Linked DNA regions of Homo sapiens: regions 1 and 3 are each linked to region 2. The links come from fine-mapping of genetic effects on gene expression. A gene starts in region 2. Each other region holds a variant in brackets. All regions are shown on one strand. Distances are from middle to middle.

The links.
Region 1: its variant is fine-mapped to the expression of AAR2 in whole blood (INTERVAL, PIP above 0.99).
Region 3: its variant is fine-mapped to the expression of AAR2 in whole blood (INTERVAL, PIP above 0.99).

Annotation. Positions count from the first base shown.
Region 1 is chr20:36,100,255-36,103,010 of GRCh38, reverse strand. It overlaps a transcript of EPB41L1 not described here. Among named protein-coding and RNA genes, the nearest start is that of NORAD, 51 kb to the right of the region's middle. The variant T/GTTTTGTTTTT (reference allele first, on the strand shown) is at 1,005.
Region 2 is chr20:36,235,080-36,237,817 of GRCh38, reverse strand. AAR2 (AAR2 splicing factor) reads right to left here and starts at 1,340. Exons shown (of 4, transcript NM_001271874.2): 1 at 1,315-1,340. It overlaps LOC105372602 (a long non-coding RNA gene), which reads left to right and starts at 1,352. Exons shown (of 3, transcript XR_936695.2): 1 at 1,352-1,460.
Region 3 is chr20:36,177,958-36,180,713 of GRCh38, reverse strand. EPB41L1 (erythrocyte membrane protein band 4.1 like 1) reads right to left here. Exons shown (of 22, transcript NM_012156.2): 4 at 2,658-2,756; 5 at 2,042-2,084. All of the region lies in intron 2 of LOC124904892 (a long non-coding RNA gene), which reads left to right. Among named protein-coding and RNA genes, the nearest start is that of EPB41L1-AS1, 24 kb to the right of the region's middle. The variant T/C (reference allele first, on the strand shown) is at 1,142.

The DNA.
Region 1 (2,756 bases), 130 kb after region 2:
GATTGGGGAATGGAGGGGGTGGCATTCTTGGCAGGGAGGAACAGAGGGAGCTAGGGCAAAGACATAGGAAGCACTGGGTGTGTCCCAGGAGCCTCAGGAAATTAGTTTTCGCAGCCCTCCCCTTGGCACTGACCCACATGTCCAGCTCTGAACAGAGGTCACCTTGAGCTTCCCCAGATTCACAGGCACCTTGCTCAATTATGGTGAGTGGGGACGGAAAGGGAGAAAGGACTTGAGCATTTGGGCATGTGGTCAGACAGAAGGGACTCAAGGGGCCAGAATGCAGGCTGTGTCCAGAATCTCTGAAGATGGAAGATGCAAAAGTGGGAGGTCCCCCCAGTGGTGGGTGAAGCCAGGGAGGAGCAAGGAAAAGGACAAAGAACTTGGACTGGGCAGCAGGAGACCTGACTTCCAGAACCACAGATCAAAGCTGCATGGAAACTTGGGATTATCCTGTCCAACCCCCATTTTACAGCTAGGAAAACTGAGGCCCAGACAGAGGGACAGGTCTACAGTCCCTGACCACCTTCACAGCAAAGCCAGTAATGTGCTGAGAGGCATGAGAGACCAGCCCTCTCCACCCAGCTCTGCCATTGGCTCCCTGGTGACCTTTCTCTAGACGTTAGGCTCCAACTGCGCAAAACAACCCTGAAGACAGCAGTTCTAAAGTTGTATGGGTTGTGACTCCAAGACAGACGGTGCCTGTGGATCCTCTCCTAGGGACAATGCACACTCTTAACATTGTGCATGCCATATTTCAGAAGTTCATGAACATCTGAGGCCAGCCTTCTACAAGGGCAATCTGAGAACCATCTGTGTCCCAATCATCTCGATGGGGAGACTGTTACAGCAGGCTGCTTCCGGGGCCCTACCTCGGATCTGACGCCCACCCCCCACCCCGCCCATGGAGCAGCTGGGTTTGAATCTCTTGGGTGAGGTCTGGAAAAAGAGTGCTGGGTTTTTTTGTTTTTTTTGTTTTGTTTTGTTTTGTTTTGTTTTGTTTT[T/GTTTTGTTTTT]TGAGACAGAGTCTCACTCTGTCACACAGGCTGGAGTGCAATGGTGTGATCTCAGCTCACTGCAACCTCCGCCTCCCAGGTTCAAGCGATTCTCCTGCCTCATCTTCCCTAGTAGCTGGGATTACAGGTGCATGCAGCCATGCCCAGCTAATTTTTGTATTTTTAGTAGAGACAGGGTTTCACCATGTCAGGCTGGTCTCGAACCCCTGACCTCAGGTGATCCACCTGCCTCAGCCTCCCAAAGTGCTGGGATTACAGGCATGAGCCATGGCACACAGGTTTTGTTTTGTTTTATTTTGCTTTTTAGCATGCTCACCTTTGTTGCTCTTAGGGGGAAACAAAGTTTGAGAGGCCCAGCCTTAGGGAACCCTAGGAGGGAGGGGAATGGGGTGGGGTGCTAAGCTGCTCCCCCTTTTAGGTGTTTCACAAATTGAACTTCTGCTCCCTTGCCTATGAAGAGTGGCTCTGTGGATAGAAGTTTCAAAGCCACCACTCCTTCACCAAGGTCCCTTCTGACTGAGCCACCTGCTCAGGCAGGCAGGTGGCTGGGCTGAGCCAGGCTGACCAACATAATGGTCTCGGTTGGGGTGGGTGGAGGCTCAACAAGCTGACTGCAGCTGCCCAGATTCCTGAGTGACAGTCTGAGACCAGCAGCCCTGACTGGGAGGGAGTCTGGACTCCCGGGCTGCACATGGGGTGAGAGCAGGTTTCCTATTCCTCCCTCTCTCCAGGCCACCTCCCTCTGGCCCTCAGGCCAGCTCCTTTTTTTCTTCTGGTGGATATGTACCTCTGAACCTGGGTCTCCTGGCTCCGGTCTCTGCCTCCCTCCCCACTTCTTCCAGAGTTCCACCCGTCACTGAGCCTGCAGCATATCCAAGCTCCCAAGCAGTCTTGTGAGGAGACAAAAGTAATGCTCTTTGCAAATGATATGCTTCTTTAAGTGGAAGACTCGATTCAATGAAAAATTGAGGTGGCCAGAGACAAAACAATAACTAGGAAAAAAGGCAAGTACCTTCAGATGGGCCCTGTCACCACCCCCCATACCGATGCAGTGTCTCTCCTACAGGTGGGCAGCTGCCTAGAACCAGATGGGCTCAGAGCCTTGGCGGGCCCCAAGGCTGATGCTGTAGAAAGGCCAGTCCCGGAGGTGCTGCCAGAGTGCAGGCCTGGGAGGGAAGATTCCTCGATTGGAAGCCCTTCTTTCAGAGTCAAGAATTTGTTCTCTGAATTTGAGCAAATGCATGCCCCTCTGTGGACACCTAAATGCTCCCGCAGGCTCTGTCACAGGCCATATAGGAAAGACTCAAGAGTACCGGTGGGCTTCGGACAGATCTAGATTGAAATCCCAGCTGTGCCACTTGCTGGCTGAGGACTGCGTAGGCCTTGGGCAAGTTATTTAGCCTCCTGTAATACGACGGGGATCATCATCTCTGCCTCACTTGGTAGTTGTAAGGATTAAAAGACATAAGGCATGTAAAGCGCTTAGCACAGGGCCTGGCACACAGTAAGCCAATAAACATAAGCAGTTGATTATAAGTCACCAGAGTGAGCCTCTTATGAGGAAGACTCTAGACTTTCTAATTCTAGGTGGCCTCAAGCAAACCCAAAACCACCCACCTGAAGTGGGCCTGGAGACTCTATCTTTAGACCTCTAATCTGGGGACAAGGTGGGGAGAGGGAAGGGGAGAAAGCAGACAGAAGGGAGAGAGCAAACTGAGAAGAGGAGGGAGGAAAGGAAAGAAGAATCAAGGG
Region 2 (2,738 bases):
GAGCGAATTCCGTCTCAAAATAATAATAATAATAATAATAATAATAATAATAATAATAATAATAATACGTATCATCTTCCTATTTGTAATCCTGAATTCAGAAAGTATTTAATATTTGCTGAATGAACAGATATTCCATTTACAATAACAGCTCATCAATTAGCCATTTTCCCTTGTGACATCTGTGTGCTCCTCCTTGATAATGACGTTTCTTTCATGCTAATTCCACCAGTCTGTAATTCTATTCACTATATCTCCAGCAGCTGGCACAGGGCCTAGCACAGAGGAGATGCTAGGAAAACGTTTATTAAATATGCATAGAACTCTGCAGTCTACCAGCCCCTGTCACTGACAGCTCTGTGAGTTCCTCACAGTCCTGGAACACCTAAAGTCACATCCATCCACTTCTCTCCACCACCTCCCTAATCCAAGCTACCATCGTCCCTCACTCAGAGTGCTTGCTCCTCAACCCATTCTCCATTCAACAGCAGTAACCTTTTCAAAATGCCAATCTAATCACAACACCACCCATGTCAGCTTCTGAGTGGTTTCCCATATGGTTCTTGAAAAACCAGAATTCTTCCTATTACCTACAAAGCCTGCACGGTCTGACTCCTGGCAACCCCTTTAGCTTGTGTCACACAATGGTCCCCCACAAGCTCTCTGTTCCAGCCACAACGGCCTCTTTCAGAACCTGAAATTGGAGGCTGTCTCCATATAGAAAACTCTTCCCTCCCCACTTTGTCAAATCCTTTTTTCTGATCTCAGCTCAATATTCACCTCCTCAGTAAAGGTTCCTTGCCCTGGGGCTAGGTCAGGTCTCCTGTGATATAATCTGGGGTGCCTTGTACCTTTCCGTCTCAATGATCACAACTGCAGTTTTGGATGTTTGATTGAAGGCTGTCATCGCCACGAGACTTGAGTCCTGCTGTATCCCTAGCACAGATTCAACGCTTAGTAAACATTTATTTAATACAAGTATGATATCCATTTTGTAAACGAGAAACAAAGCCTCAGTTCGGGGAAAGACCTTACTGGAAGTCACGCAGAGAGTAGGGCAGAGCCAGGTCGAGTGCAATCAGGGTCTCCGGCCCCCAGGCTCTAAAGTTAAGAAAACCGCGACGTAACTCTGGCGACGGCTTCTCAGGAAGGGCCTCCAGAGACACCAGCGTCCCACAAACAGAGAACCAGCCGCCCCGGCGAGGTGGGCCTAGTTCAAGGCACTCCGTGACTCTGAGCCGAGAAGAGGGGCGGCCCAGCCACACATACACAAGGAATCAGGAAAGGAAAAAGAGGCCAGGAGGCCACACTCACCGCCTCGCCCCACGTTCCGGTACAGCGGAAACGCACCGGAAGTTCTCCAGCTTTGGCGTCTGACTGGAGCGACGGGGGAAGCGGTCCGGCAGAGCCCTGGGTCGCGGGAAGAATGGCCCGTGCCTGCAGGTTCCGCCGGATGCAAGGTTGCCTTTTGTTATTCTTAGTTTCTCGTTTTAGCTTCTGAATTGTGAACAACTTTCATTAACCTATGCATTTTATATCCCCGTCCAGAAACACAGCCACCAGCCATCTTACTTTGGGCTCAAGCAGTCATGGTCACTAAAGCACAGCCAAGGCTTGTACCAGTGGCTACTATTCAGAAGTAGCCAGTCAGGCGCTCGGTCACTGTCTTTGTCAGCCAGTCTCTATCCCGGTCACAGTGTCTCAGCTTCCAGTCACACTCAGCCCTCGGGGAGAGCCTCAGAAACCCAGCCACCAGCCCAGAGAGAACCAGCGTCAGCCTCCGCTGCTGCAGCAGCAGCGGTCGCCACCTCAGTCCCTCTGGCCATTATCACCCCGTGTCCTTCCTGCAGGCCAAGTCCTAACATCTCAGTCAGGCTATCAACGCACTAGGGAAGGAATCTGCCTGTCTTGTTCCTCACTGTTTCCCTGGAACCGAGCACAAAGCCAGGCACAAAAGCTCAGCTGAGTACATATATTATGCATTTAATTAATAATGATGATAATTTGGTATTAATAAATAACTATTTGTGGGTCTAACCCTGCACTATTAATCAGGGTTCCACCAAAGATACAGAGCCAGTAGGAGATCTATATTAAGTGATTTATTGCCAAGAATTGGCTTATGTGATTTTAGGGCAGGCCACTTGGGTATTTCTTTTTTTGAGACGCAATCTCACTCTGTCACCCAGGCTGGAGTGCAATGGCGCTATCTCGGCTCACTGCAACCTCCACCTCCTGGGTTCAAGCCATTCTCCTGCCTCAGCCTCCCAAGTAGCTGGGATTACAGGCGCCCACCACCGTGCCTGGCTAATTTTTGTATTTTTAGTAGAGACGGGGTTTCATCTTGTTGGCCAGGCTGGTTTCGAACTCCTGACCTCAGGTGATCTGCCCACCTTGGCCTCTCAAAGTGCTGGGATTACAGGCATGAGCCACCGTGCCCGGCCCACTTGGGTATTTATAATCCTTGCACTAACCCTTGTAAGGTATGTGTATTCCCAATTTGCAGAAGAGAAAACTGAGGTTCAAAGAGATGTTACACAGCCAGAGAATGGCAGAGCTAGAATGCAAACCAAGGGCTGTCTGTTCTTATCTCTTGTGCTGCTGCTCCTTAGCTTGTCTGTCACATTTCCTCAGTGACAGCTGGACACGCCAATCTGTCTCGGTCAAAATTTATCTCTTAGTGGGTTGCAGACTAGACCGGGCCCTGCAGTCATGGTTAATCACAATGAGCTGCTGCA
Region 3 (2,756 bases), 57 kb after region 2:
TACTCATTTAACCCTCACAACAACATAAATATAAGTACTAGCACTACCCTGCTTTACAGAGGAGGAAACCAAGGCACAGTCAACACAAGAAGCAGGTGGAGTTAACATTCAAATCCAGGCAGTCTGGCCTCAGTGTCTGTCTGCTTAACCATCACACCAGATTGCCTCAGGGAAGCAAGAAGAAAACAGCTACTGAGCACCTACTATGTGCTTGGTGCTGTCCATACATATGTCATTGAACTGTCACCCCCACTTCATGAGGCAGGAACTACTAATCCACTGGCCAAGGAGAAGCAGGGGCCCAGAGGGGTGGAAAGCTTGTCCCAGGTGCCCTACTTTGCCCTACCTTGCCCCAGGTGCACTGAGGTTTGGGAGGAGATACACCCAACTCTGAAGCTCAGGCCACAAGGACCAATGGGACCACCTTCAGAAGGCTGAGGTGCTGTCACAGAGGGCAAAAAATTGCTCCACTGGGGCACCAGAAGGTAGGATGAGGATAAATGGCTGGAAGTTACAGGGGTAGAGGCAGAGACTGTGGCTCTCCTGGATAAGGTACTTGCTAGCGATCAAGACTTACTCGATGACTTGGGATGGCTACAAGGAGTGACATCCACCAGGCCTGGGCTGTGCTGGCAGGGGCTGCAGGCCACCTCTGGGAGGGATGCTGAGACCTGACCATTTGGTCCAGCCACCTGTCTTTCCCAAGCTCCTGGTCCTGACCAAACACCACACACTCGGCTGCCTATATGTTTTCCGATCCCTTTAGTCATGAGAGACAGGCCTCCCAGCCAGGCTGGGGCTCCTGGGGGACAGCCTGAAGCCCAGGCGGAGGATCTGTCAGCCCCCCGAGGAGTGCACTCTGTCTGTGTGCCTGCCTCTTTGTCTCCAACTGACAGAACCTTCAGGAAGAATTCCTCGAGCCCCCTCCTGCAGAGTCAGCTGGCATCCCTGGGCCCAGCTGCCCGCTGTCATGGTAACAGGCTCAGCTACAGCTTTCCAGCCAGGGGACCAGGGAGTTCAGGAGAGACCAACCACAGCCAAGGGGGAGGGGCCCTGGGTGGAGGCATCTCTGCCTCGAGGCGCCAGGTCTCCAACTACTCAGGCTGCCTTGCTGAGGCCACCTACCACCCCCTTCTGCCAT[T/C]TGGGAGCTGCCCCATCCCTTCCCGACATGCTTTCTCTCTCTGGGCCAGAAAGGACAGGTTGTTGGCCTGCTCATCTGCCTTCACCCCAGGCCTTGAAAAGAGCACAGGATGGTGTTGGAAGACCAGGCCTCAAGACCTGGCTCAGCCAACATTTGGCTCTGTGACCTTAGGTAATAACTGCCTCTCTCTGGGCCTCTGAGGAAAGGGTCATTGTTTACTGAAGACTACACCATTCCTGGACAGAAGGGTGGCTGTTTCCAGCCCATCTGCTTGTCCTTTGTCCTAGATGGCTCTGCAGGTCCCTTCTAGAGCTGGCGTCCTGAATGTATTTATGATTCCTCTGCTAACCTGCTGTGTGACTCTGCACAGTCGTCTCTCTTCTCTGGGCCTTAGACTTGTCCTTCCCACTCTGGCTTCTCCCAAGATCTGCCATGTGGAGTACACGGACTCATGGATCTGAATGCATTTTCTTTCTTTTTTTTTTTTTTTCTTTTTTCGAGATGAAATTTTGCTCTGTTGCCCAGGCTGGAGTGCAGTGGCATGATCTCAGCTCACCACAACCTCTGCCTCCCAGGTCCAAGAGAATCGCTTGAGGCAGTCCCAGTGCCTCAGCCTCCCGAGTAGCTGGGATTACAAGCACCCGCCACCACGCCCAGCTAATTTTTGTATTTTTTTTTAGTAGGGACAGGCTTTTCCCATGTTGGCCAGGATGGTCTTGAACTCCTGACCTCAAGTGATCCACCCGCCTTAGCCTCGCAAAGTGTTGGGATTACAGGGATGAGCCACAACGCCTGGCCTGAAATGCACTTTCCAAAGGAGGAGAGAGCAGTACAAGGGGGGCTCTCATGGCCTGGAATCCCCTCACCCACCCACCTCCCCAAACACAACAAGCCACTCACTCCGGATCTGCTTCTTGATCTCCTTGGAGGGGTCCAGCCAGTTCTAAAAGAAAAGATAGAGATCTTCAGAGGGAAGACGCAGGAAAGGACCTGACTGGGCTGAGAGAGAGAAATATCCTGAAATGGCTGGTCAGCAGCCCCTTGTAGGGAACGCCCTTCCTTGGCTAAGCCTCTTGGTTCCTTTTCCTTGGGACTAGGGGGTGAGGGGAATGGGGCCAGGATTCACCACCAGGCTTGGACCCAGTGCCCGGAGCTGCCACTGCCCTGAGGCAGTCCCAGTGAGCAGGTGATGCATCTGCAATGGGACTGGCAGGAAGAAGGAAACTCAGAGCCTCCCAAGGGTAGGGGAGAAGCTCTAGCAGGGAGCTCCTCAGCTCCCCCAGCAACTCTAGCAGCCAGACCAGGGCTCTCTAAATTCTCATCTGGGGGTGACCTGTATGTCACCAAGAAATGGCTGAGACAGGGAACCGCAGGTGGATAGGGCTGGTTGAGCCTTGGGGACACGCAAACAGAAGATGCTTAATGATTTGAGCACTAATGGATGCTGTTGGGGGTGGCCAGGATTACAGGAGCCTAACGGAAGAGCAGGTCCCACCCTGCTCCCTAGCCCAGGTACCTTCTGGCTGTCAGCATCACAGAAGGTCAGGCCGAAGTAGTCCTTCTCTAGGAGGTTGAGGTGTTCACAGACCAGGTCAAACAGCACCTGGCCCCGGCC